Linked DNA regions of Homo sapiens: region 2 is linked to region 1. Evidence: fine-mapped expression QTL. A gene starts in region 1. The other region holds a variant in brackets. All regions are shown on one strand. Distances are between the middles of the regions.

Evidence for each region. PIP is the estimated chance that this variant, and not a neighbour inherited with it, causes the effect. A credible set is the group of variants that fine-mapping cannot tell apart.
Region 2: its variant is the best candidate, but not a certain one, in a credible set for the expression of TPX2 in subcutaneous fat (FUSION, PIP 0.60).

Annotation. Positions count from the first base shown.
Region 1 is chr20:31,737,175-31,742,546 of GRCh38, forward strand. It overlaps TPX2 (TPX2 microtubule nucleation factor), which reads left to right and starts at 2,116. Exons shown (of 18, transcript NM_012112.5): 1 at 2,116-2,447; 2 at 5,367-5,372. RefSeq lists enhancers at 2,129-2,178, 2,269-2,428.
Region 2 is chr20:31,842,921-31,848,292 of GRCh38, forward strand. FOXS1 (forkhead box S1) reads right to left here and starts at 2,684. Exons shown (of 1, transcript NM_004118.4): 1 at 1,383-2,684. The coding sequence starts at 2,622. The coding sequence ends at 1,630. It also overlaps a transcript of DUSP15 not described here. RefSeq lists an enhancer at 2,068-2,625. The variant C/G (reference allele first, on the strand shown) is at 3,257.

The sequences.
Region 1 (5,372 bases):
ATTCTCCTGCCTCAGCCTTCCAAGTAGCACCAGGCAACCACCCCATTTTAATTGTGGAAAATTTCAAACTCATACAAGAGTATATGTATGTATTTATGTATCATGAACCCATCACCAGGTTCAACAATTATCAATTTGTAGCTAATCTTGTTTCATCTAAATCCCCACCTACTTATCTTCACTGCCTACTCCCAATTATTTGGAAGCCAGTGCCAGAGTAATTTCATCCCTACCGTATCTATATGTATCTCTACAACACAAGGACTCTTAAAAAAGAAAACAAAAGGTGTGGTGGCTCACACCTGTAGTCCCAGCACTTGGGAGGGTGAGGCGGGGGCATCACCCGAGGTCAGGTGTTCGAGACTAGCCTGGTCAACATGGTGAAACCCCGTCTCTATCAAAAAATATAAAAATTAGCCGGGTGTGGTGGCGCATTTTTAATCCCGGGTACTTGGGAGGCTGAGGCAGGAGAAACCGGGAGGCGGAGGTTGCAGTGAGCTGAGATCACACCGTTGCACTCCAGCCTGGGCTACAAGAACGAAACTCCGTCTCAAAAAACAAAATGAAACAAAACAACAACAACAAAAAGAAAACAAAACCAAACTCTGGCAGTTTATGTTTTGAAGGAACTAAATTGTCCTGTGGTTTTCCTGTCTGGATTTTGCCGATTGCACCCCCATGGGTGTGAATTAACTGAACCATACTTTAAAAATTACTATAATTTCATGTTAATATGTACAAAATCTGTACATAAATCCCCCAATCTTTTTCAAAATTCAAGATGCCAGTACTTGTACTCTTCCATAGGAACTTTAGAATTAACTTGGCAAATTCCAGAACAGAACCCACTGGGACTTTCATTGGAATTGCCTTGACCTTTTTTTTTTTGTTTTGAGACAGAGTCTCGCTCTGTTGCCCAGGCTGGAGTGCAGTGGTGCAATCTTGGCTCACTGCAACCTCCGCCTCCTGGGTTCAAGTGATTCTCCTGCCTCAACCTCCCAAGTAGCTGTGATTACAGGCACGCGCGAGCACGCCCGGCTAATTTTTGTATTTTTAGTAGAGATGGGGGGGGGTTTCAACATTTTGGCCAGGCTGGTCTCGAACTCATCGCCTCAAGTGATCTGCCTGTCTCGGCCTCCCAAAGTGCTGGGATTACATGCGTGAGCTACCGCACCCAGCCTAGGCTTAATTTTTGAATCTTTAGCTTTTGCTGGTATTATGAAGGGGGTTGTTTTGTTGTTCTTGTTGCTGCTATTTTCTAATTGATTAAAAAAAATTAAGATGGTGGGGGTGGTCTCGTTATGATGTCTACGCTGTTCTGGAACTCTTGGTCTCAAGGGATCCTTCTGCTTTAGCCTCCTGTGGAGCTGGGATTATAGGTGAGCGCCACGAAGCCCGGCCTCTAATTAATTATCGGTGGTGTATAAAAAGAACAGACCTTCTTAATTCGAATCCCATCTTCTCCATTTATTATGTGATTTTGGACATGTTTGTTCAACTTCTCCTAGACTTTGTTTTCTTTTTACGACATGGGGATCATAAAGCCGGGATGCAGTTGGGAATAAAACCGGATAAAGCTCCCAACGAACCGCGGGTTTCATAAGATCAGGGCAGGGACTGGGTAAAAGGTTTCAAAGACTCCTGCACTATTGGGAAGGACGCTACGGGCGAGTCTATGTTGCATGCAGGCGACTCCATGTTAAGACGAAGTGAACTCCCTGAACCTTCAAGGGATAATGCACAACCATAACGAGAATAATTTTTAAAAATAGAGTTTTCTTCCCTGAAAACTTGGAGAGGTCCAGGATGCGCGCCATTCTGTGATCTAGGTTGACTCTCCACCTCTTCAGTTGGTACCACCTTTCCCAAATAGTTTGGAGCAGAGCACTCCGGTCTTTGTAATAACGTACTCCTAAGAGCTGTTCCAGTGGACTCACGCAGGCGCAGGAGACTACACTTCCCAGGAACTCCGGGCCGCGTTGTTCGCTGGTACCTCCTTCTGACTTCCGGTATTGCTGCGGTCTGTAGGGCCAATCGGGAGCCTGGAATTGCTTTCCCGGCGCTCTGATTGGTGCATTCGACTAGGCTGCCTGGGTTCAAAATTTCAACGATACTGAATGAGTCCCGCGGCGGGTTGGCTCGCGCTTCGTTGTCAGATCTGAGGCGAGGCTAGGTGAGCCGTGGGAAGAAAAGAGGGAGCAGCTAGGGCGCGGGTCTCCCTCCTCCCGGAGTTTGGAACGGCTGAAGTTCACCTTCCAGCCCCTAGCGCCGTTCGCGCCGCTAGGCCTGGCTTCTGAGGCGGTTGCGGTGCTCGGTCGCCGCCTAGGCGGGGCAGGGTGCGAGCAGGGGCTTCGGGCCACGCTTCTCTTGGCGACAGGATTTTGCTGTGAAGTCCGTCCGGGAAACGGAGGAAAAAAAGAGTTGCGGGAGGCTGTCGGCTAATAACGGTAACGATAATTATTGTTATTACCATGCTAACAGGTTATAAACATTGACTGAACTAAGCACCCTGCATGCCCGTTCTCATTTAATTTCCTCGCCAAGCCAATGTAGTTGGTGCTATTCTTGGTCCCTCTTGACAGAAACTGAGGAAGGAGGAAGGAGGAGGAAACTGAGGCCCAGAATCTAGATAAATTTCGAGAAATGGGTGATACAGTAGCCATGCCCTCAGGAAGTGTGGCGTTTGATGGAGGAAAACAGAGGTAGTCACAAATAAGTACATTTCAAAACTGTTGTCTAAAACAGGAAGATAATTAGATGGTGTGAGAACATAATTGAGGGAGAGTTTAAGTCCACTTGGAGTTGTCTTCTATTTGGGATTTAAAATTCATTATATGTTATCCATATTTGTCCAGCTCTCTTTTTGTATGGAATCACCAGATATTATTCCCTTTCTCATTTCCTTTCTCAACATTTATAGATTGGAGGGGGGAAGGAAAACCAAACCAGGTTATAATGTAGAATTGGTTTACCCCCTATTTTCTTGACATATAACGTCTGGTTTTCCACATATAATTTTCTAGTAGTTCAGTAACATGGACTCCCCCCAAATCAGGCCTACTTAGGATAGAAGAGGATTTTTGACTCCTGGATTTTGCTTTAAGACCAGCTCTTGGTTTACTTCCTGCTTCACCCTTACCTTTTCTTGACATCCTGTGGCCTCTCTTTGAATTTCTCTCACTCATCAAATGTTGTCAAAAATAGGACTACTTGCTGCTGTAGTAAGGATATTCTTGTATTGTGGCCTTAGTGTATTACATCACCCCCACGTCAGACTTGAGTCCCCCTGGTTGGTTTGGGTGAGTCAGTTCAGTATTAAGCTGGCATTCTTGGATCAAAATTATGTGGCTGTCAGCTAACTCAGCCATTTAGTTGACCTTTGAGGGTACTGTGCTCAGATTGGCATGAGATATTATGGGTGTACAGATATATGATGTACTCAAACGTTTTTTGGTATGTTTGGGGACAAAAACATGGTTTGAAATTGGCAAGTGAGAATCAGAGCAAGATAGGACACCATCTGGGTGCTCTACTGTTTTGTATTCTAGGTGTCTGGACAATTTAGAGGTGAGGGAGTTCAAGAGCCAGTTTGTGTTTCTGTGCTTCACAAAGCCACCCTTGTCTAATTCTTGATAACCAGAGTTTGGTTAGACAGGGACTGAAACAATCCTAGTGCATAGGAATCACCCACTAAATACCTGTTGAATTGAGTAGGCAGGAAGGCACTATCTGAATTGACTACAAAATTGCGGGTATGAAAAACTGGATTGTATTCAACTAGGTTGGTAAATTTGTTTAGACTTTCAAATTATCTGAATAGGGTTTATTTGGCCAACCTTATGCATAAATCTGTGTATTCCAACCTTGATAAAATTAATTTATTGCAATTAAGTTTGTCCAGGATTATGTGAGAGAGTCCTTCATTTCATTTCTTTAGTTACCAGGAGATGTTCAGGGCTCATCTACATCTCCTGGTTAATTTTCCTTCAGCTTTTTCTGTGTCTCTTCCCTAATTCTCTTTGAGTTCCTGGGAGAAAGAGGAGGGATATTTAAATGCCCTTTGACATACTTAATTTTCTTTGCTATGGGCAAAGTTAGGAAGCAAAATTGACTATAGAGTTGTTTTTTTTGTTTTTGTTTTTGTTTTTTTTTTTTGAGACGGAGTCTCACTCTGTCGCCCAGGCTGGAGTGCAGTGGCGCGATTTCAGCTCACTGCAACTTCTGCCTCCCCTGTTCAAGCAATTCTCCTACCTCAGTCTCTTGAGTAGCTGGGATTATAGGGATCTGCCACCACACCCGGCTAATTTTTGTATTTTTTTTTTGAGATGGCATCTCACTTTGTTACCTAGGCTGGAGTGCAATGGTGCGCTCTCGGCTCACTGCAACCTCCGCCTCCTGGGTTCAAGCAATTCTCCTGCCTCAGCCTCCCAAGTAGCTGGGACTACAGGCGCATGCCACCACACCCGGCTAGTTTTTTTGTATTTTTAATAGAGATGGGGTTTCACCATGTTAGCCAGGATGGTCTCAATCTCCTGACCTCGTAATCTGCCTGCCTCGGCCTCCCAAAGTGCTGGGATTACAGGTGTGAGCCACTGTGCCTGGCCTAATTTTTGTATTTTTAGTAGATACAGGGTTTCACCACGTTGGCCAGGCTAGTCTCAAACTCCTTATCTCAGGTGATCCACCTGCCTCGGCCTCCCAAAGTGCTGGGATTACAGGTGTGAGCCACCTTGCCTGGCCTTAGAGAGATTTCATAACCCAAGCGATTCTGTGAATAGATCTGTATTTGAGACAGAGATGTAGAGATCAGCAGCCCAAGGTACTCTGTGAAAAAAGGATAGATAACTGCGGAGGGCTTCCGTTTTTGTTTGTGTAGGGAAACTTGGTAAAAGGGGAATAAAGAACAGTGAGAAAAGTATAAAATTGTATCTAGAGGTTACTTTGGAAATTAAAAATAATGTTATTTGTACTTAGTAAAACAAAGTAGTAAAAGTTTGCTCTTTTTTTTTTTTTTTTTTTGAGACAGTCTCACTGTGTTGCTCAGGCTGGAGTGCACTGGCTGGCGCAATCTTGGCTCACTGAAGCTTCCGCTTCCCAGGTTCAAGCGATTCTCCTGCCTCAGTGTCCCGAGTAGCTGGGATTGCAGGCGTGCACCACCATGCCTGGCTAATTTTTGTATTTTTAGTAGAGATGGGGTTTCACCATGTTGGCCAGGCTGGTCTTGAACTCCTGACCTCAAGTGATCCACCTGCCTTGGCCTCCCAAAGTGCTGGGATTATAGGCGTGAGCCACTGCTCCCGGCCTGTTAACCCTTTTTTACTACAGAGAACTTGGAACCTGTTTCATCACTTTTCTGCTTCTTCCAGGTTCTT
Region 2 (5,372 bases), 110 kb after region 1:
ATGGGTTCCAGGCTGGGGTTCAGCAGGCATGGTGGGGAGGGGCCCCACAGCTGGCCAGGCGTTTTCCCAGCCCCTCTCACCCTGCAGGTCCTCCTCCACCCCAGCTCTGAGACTGTGGGAACCAGACAGTTCGGGCTGTCCAGCCGGGCTCGCTTCCTCCCAGGCCCCAGGGGACCTGTCGGGGGAGGAGGGAGCAGCAAAGGCTGGAGTCCTCGGGGCTGCCTGGGCAAGGGAGGGCCTCTGGAGGGGAGAGGGCTGCCTGCCCAAGAAGGGGTCTCCAGCCCCCTGAGTGTAACCTCGTGGGACATAAGACACTCTAGACCACATGCCAAAAACCAGAATGGGGGTGCCCCAGCATCCCTCCCTCCTCTCCCTATGCCCATGATCCAGATAGGAGGACTGAGGCTCTGGGGAGGAAGCCATTCGCCTCTGCTCCTCCAGTGCTGGGGTCTGTGAGGACAGCGATGTTTCAGATTCCTTCTCTGTTCCTCTAACGAGGACCAAGAATATCCCCATTTCTCCTGCTTCCTCGCGAAGGGATAGTCAGAGAAGGTCAAAGGTCAGGGCTCAGTCACTTCTGAATGGTACCTAGGACAGTCACAGCCCATGCTGCTGGCCCCAAGAAATGCCGTCTTAAAGAGTCACCAGAGGACCTCATGGAGCTGGGGGCTCAGGGAAGCTCCCACATTAATGTGGGAAGTCCAAACAGGGGGTAGGTGCTGCCTTTTGAACCCTAGGTGCCCTGTCTGCACAATGGGTAAAGGGTGCCTTTCTAGCCCTGGCCTTCCAGGATTGCAGCAAAGCCCTCCCACCTCTGGGGGCCACCACCAGCTCTGCCCTGACCCTCTTCTCCACCCTTATGTCCTCACTCAAGCTGCAGGTCAGAGGCTGGAGGGTAGAGCCACACAGATGTGGTTTTGATTTACCCTCTGCCACCCATTTGCCCTCTGGAGTTGGAGCTGGCGAGCCTGTTTCCACCACTGTAAACGGGGCCAACTTTCCAAATCACACAGGTGAGATGATACATACAAGCCCGGGACAGGATCAGTGTCACAAATTGTCAGGGTTATGATGACTGCACCTACGGGGGCTAAGTCCCAGCATCTGAGACTGGAGAATCAGTCCCTCAGGCCAGCCCAGTCTTGCCCCTGCCCAGTCTCTCCCTTGCCTGTATCCTCCTCTCCCTGCTCCCCATTCCCTACCTCCCCTTCCTCTCCCTTTCTAGGAAACTCCCTGAGAAAGTCCCCAGCAGGAGAAAACCTCATGTGAGATATTCCCACCAAGGGTCTCTGCCCCCGCTGCACAACCCCACAGCCACAGCCACCCCCACATACAAGCAGGCACCCTGGCCCTCAGCCCCCAGCCATCAGGCAAGCTGACCCTCATCATCACATGGCTTTATTGGCCCTGAGAGCCACAGAGTAAATCCCAAGAGGCCCTGCTTCCCCTCACCCCCAAGTTTGTCCGGAGGCCCCAGGGGCCTGGCTGAGCACCGCTTCAATCCTGGCTTTCTGTGTGGTTGTCCTTGGCTCACCAGGGCTGGGTCCTTCGAGAGTTCTTCAGGTCCTAGAGCCAGGCTCAGCCCGGAGGGTGAGGGACCTGCAGGGACTGCCCGAGGTGAGGCTGCCTTTACTCAAAGAAGAACATTCCTGGCGTCCGGTATAGGCAGGGGGTCAGCCCCAATGGGTAGCCGGAGCCTCCCTGGACAGGGAAGCCACCTGCAACCCAGGGTTCCTTGTGGTCAGTTGGCAGGGGCAGTGGGGCCCGGAGTGAGCCTGGAGGGGTGGGTGGTGCAGGGGAGGGGGCTGCTGAGGCCAAGAGGTGCTCAAGGCCTGGGTCAGCCCCCATGCAAAAATTCAGTGCCTGCAGCCGACACTGGTAGCTGCTCCCGATGCCTGATTCCGGGGACAAGACGGGCGTAGGGGCCTTATTAAAACTCTCAGCCTCTGAGAAGCCGGCAGGAAAGCCAAACGCTGGGCATGAGGAAGATGAGGTGGCCACGGGGAGCTCCCCTGGGCATGCAGGCTTGGGCGTGGAAATCTCTTTGGGCTCCATGGGTGGCCGAGGCCTGCCATCAGTGGTTGCTGGGCACATACTGGCTGGCATGGCCCCCACCAGACCCCCAAAGCTTAGGCCCTTGGGATCTGGCAGCTCTGGTGGGAATGAGCACTGCCTGCCGGTCGTGGCGTTGGGGACTCCTGGGTCCTGGCTGGTCGCCCTGAGGGGTCCACGGCGTGCCTTGGCGGGGCCCCGGGTGCCCTCAGCACCTGTCTGCCGGGTGAAGCGGCGGCGGCGGCGTAGGAAGCTGCCGTGCTCAAACATGTCGTGGCAGTCAGGGTCCAGCGTCCAGTAGCTGCCCTTGCCTGGCTTGCGGTCATCGCGGGGCACCTTGACAAAGCACTCGTTGAGTGACAGGTTGTGGCGGATGCTGTTCTGCCAGCCGGGCCGGTTGTGGCGGTAGAAGGCGAATCGGCCCATGATGTAGCGGTAGATGCCACTGAGGGTGGCCCGCTGCCCCGGTGAGCTCTGGATGGCCATAGCAATAAGGGCGATGTAGCTGTAGGGAGGCTTGGTTGGCTCAGTTGTGGGGGCGCCAGGCCCGGGCAGAGGCTGCTGCTGCATGCTGGCCGGGCTGCCAGGCTGCTGGGACCTGCTGGGTCAGGCTCAGCTTCCAGGGCTGGCGTCCGGAATAGCCTGCCCAGGCTGGTTAAAAGGTCCACTGGCCCAGCCTCCCAGCCTGGAAAGGCAAAAAGGGGTGGGTCTGCTGAGCCATCCTCCCCTCCTCCCTCGCCCCACTCCCACAAGGCCCAAAAGAGGCGGGCAGGAGAGGCCAGTAGTGGGAAGCCGAGCAGCTGCCAGGGATGAGGAGTTGGGAAGGAAGGGACTGAGACCCTCAGCCCACGTGTGCTGGGTGGTGGTGGCTGGGGAGGGACAGGATGTGAAACTGAGCGGGACAGAGACAAAAACAAAATGAGACAGAGGCAGAAACATATGAAACAGAGACAGGGAAAAAAGAGATAGAGACAGAGAGAGGTAGAGACATCACAAGAGGGAGAAAGAGGGAGAGACAAAGATAAGACAGAGGCAGACACAACGGACAGAGACACCCAGAGCCTCTCAGACACTCACAGAGAGACACACAGACATACACGTACAGACACACAGAGACACACAGACATACACGTACAGACACACAGAGACACACAGACACAGACACACACACAGACACACACACACAGACATAAGCACACACACA[C/G]ATATACACAGAGACAGACACACACAGACACATAGGCATACACACAGACACACACACAAGCACATACACAGACACACAGAGACATACACACACAGAAACACAGAGACACAGACACAGACACACACACACACACACACACACACACACGTAGTATACGGAGAAAGTGAGAATCACTGAGCAGGCAGAAACAAGGAAATCCACAAAGCCAGAGAGAAAGGAGATACTGAGAGACACAGGTGCAAACACAAGGAGTGAAAGGAATGAATAGAGAGAGAGAGAGAGAGAGAGAGAGAGAGAGAGGAGAGAGAGGCAGGGCCTGAGCCCAGTCCCCCTAGAGTGAGAGAAGCCCCAGGGGCTTCTCTAATCCCTACCTCTACTCCTGCTTTTCCCTCTTCTCCCAGGCCTGTGGTCTACTGCCTTCTCCTGCGGTGCAGAGGCCTTGGGGCCACACCACTCCTACCCCATCCTCCTAGCTCTGGGGTGTCTGCAGGGAGGGGCACCTAGGATGGTAAGGAGAGCCCATGAAATTCAGTTCTGCTGCATCCCTGTCGCCCCCTAGTGACTGGTGTGGGAAGGACAGCTATCTGGGGAGAGACATTCTCCCTCCCAAGAGGCACCTCAAGACCTTGGCTGAGCCTCAGTTTCCCCATCTCTAACATGGAGCTGGTGACTCCTCAGCTGTCCAGGCCATGGTGGGGAGGCAACAGGTTCCCCTTACACAGAATGCAGCACCCTCATCAAGAGCCTAGTATGGAGTAGGGATATGAACATGGCTGCGGATTGTCACTCTGAACTGAGGCTACCCCAGCTGCAGCCTGGGGTCGGGAGGTCCAGAGAGTCAGGCCCAGAACAGTCAGGCCTTCTGGAGGAGGGGACGGCATCCTCTCTGCTCTCCCACTCCCAAGTCACTGCTCACCCACTCTGTACCAGGCCAGCTCACCTCCCCAACCCTACACTTACTTCTTCAACCAACCCTGCTCTGGAGGGCTTCATTGCTTCTTTTGAATAGATGAGGGCTCTGAGGCTCAGAGAAGGTAAGTAAATTCCCTGATGTCCCACATCTAGTGAGTGACAAAGCTGGATATGAGCCTAGGATTCTGTAATTCCTAAATACTGCCTCTTCAGTGAGGGGCAGGGGTAGCGGAGAGTCGCTGGGTCCCCACTAGAAAACAGAATGTGAACTCCAAGAGAGTAAAGAGCATGCTGTTTTGCTGTACCCCCAGAGTCACACACTGGACACTGGAACAGAGGCCTGGAACAGAGTAGGTGTTCAAGAAATGTCTGCTAAATGACTAAACAAACAGCAATTGATTGATTTCTGTCCTTTATCGAATCACAGTTTTCCCCCCATGAAGGTGGCTTATTAATGTATCATTAAAAGAGACTTACAATATTGGCATCTGTAAGAGGATTCCTATAAATAAAATCAGAACTCAGAAAAGAATAAAAGGCCTGATATGTGGGGTGGAAAACAGCTACTTTATTCCCATGGCAGGGTAACCAACTTTCTGGTTGTAGTCCCCCTTTCCAGTTCTCAGATTGCCTACAACGTACAGCTTGCAAAGACCAGTGGGGCTTGGAGAAGGGCTGGTCTTCCACGTTGACCTCTGCCTTAGGGCTGCATTTGGAGGTCCGCCTCAGTTTCTTCAAAGACAGCATCCTACAGGTGCTGGTACTTCAGTGGTTAGCATCCAAAGCCCAGGGTTCGGCCAAGTTCCCTGTTTTGGGATCCTTCCCAGCCCCCAGAATAAAGAAGAGAGACTAGCTGCAGGGAGGAGGAAGGTTCTGTAAATTCTAGGCCCCTGAGAGGCTAGGCAGTTTTGTTATGGCTTGATCCCACACTAAACAACCCTGATGATCTAATTATTGGTAAAAACTTTAAGCAAACGTTTTAATGGACTCAACAGCAGGTTAAGGCTGGCTCTGAGGAAAGCGCTATTGACAAATTGGGCTGTCAGCAAGAGATGAAGTCTTGCTTCTGCTCCAGTTGCTGCCTTTCTGGGGCCTCAAGATCAAGTTCAGTTTCCTGCCGAAGCCCCATGCCCAGCTGGGGGGCGGTGTGGCCTACTCTCGAGTTCCGGGGCCCCGTGACAGAGGAGTGGAAGGCCGCGATCCA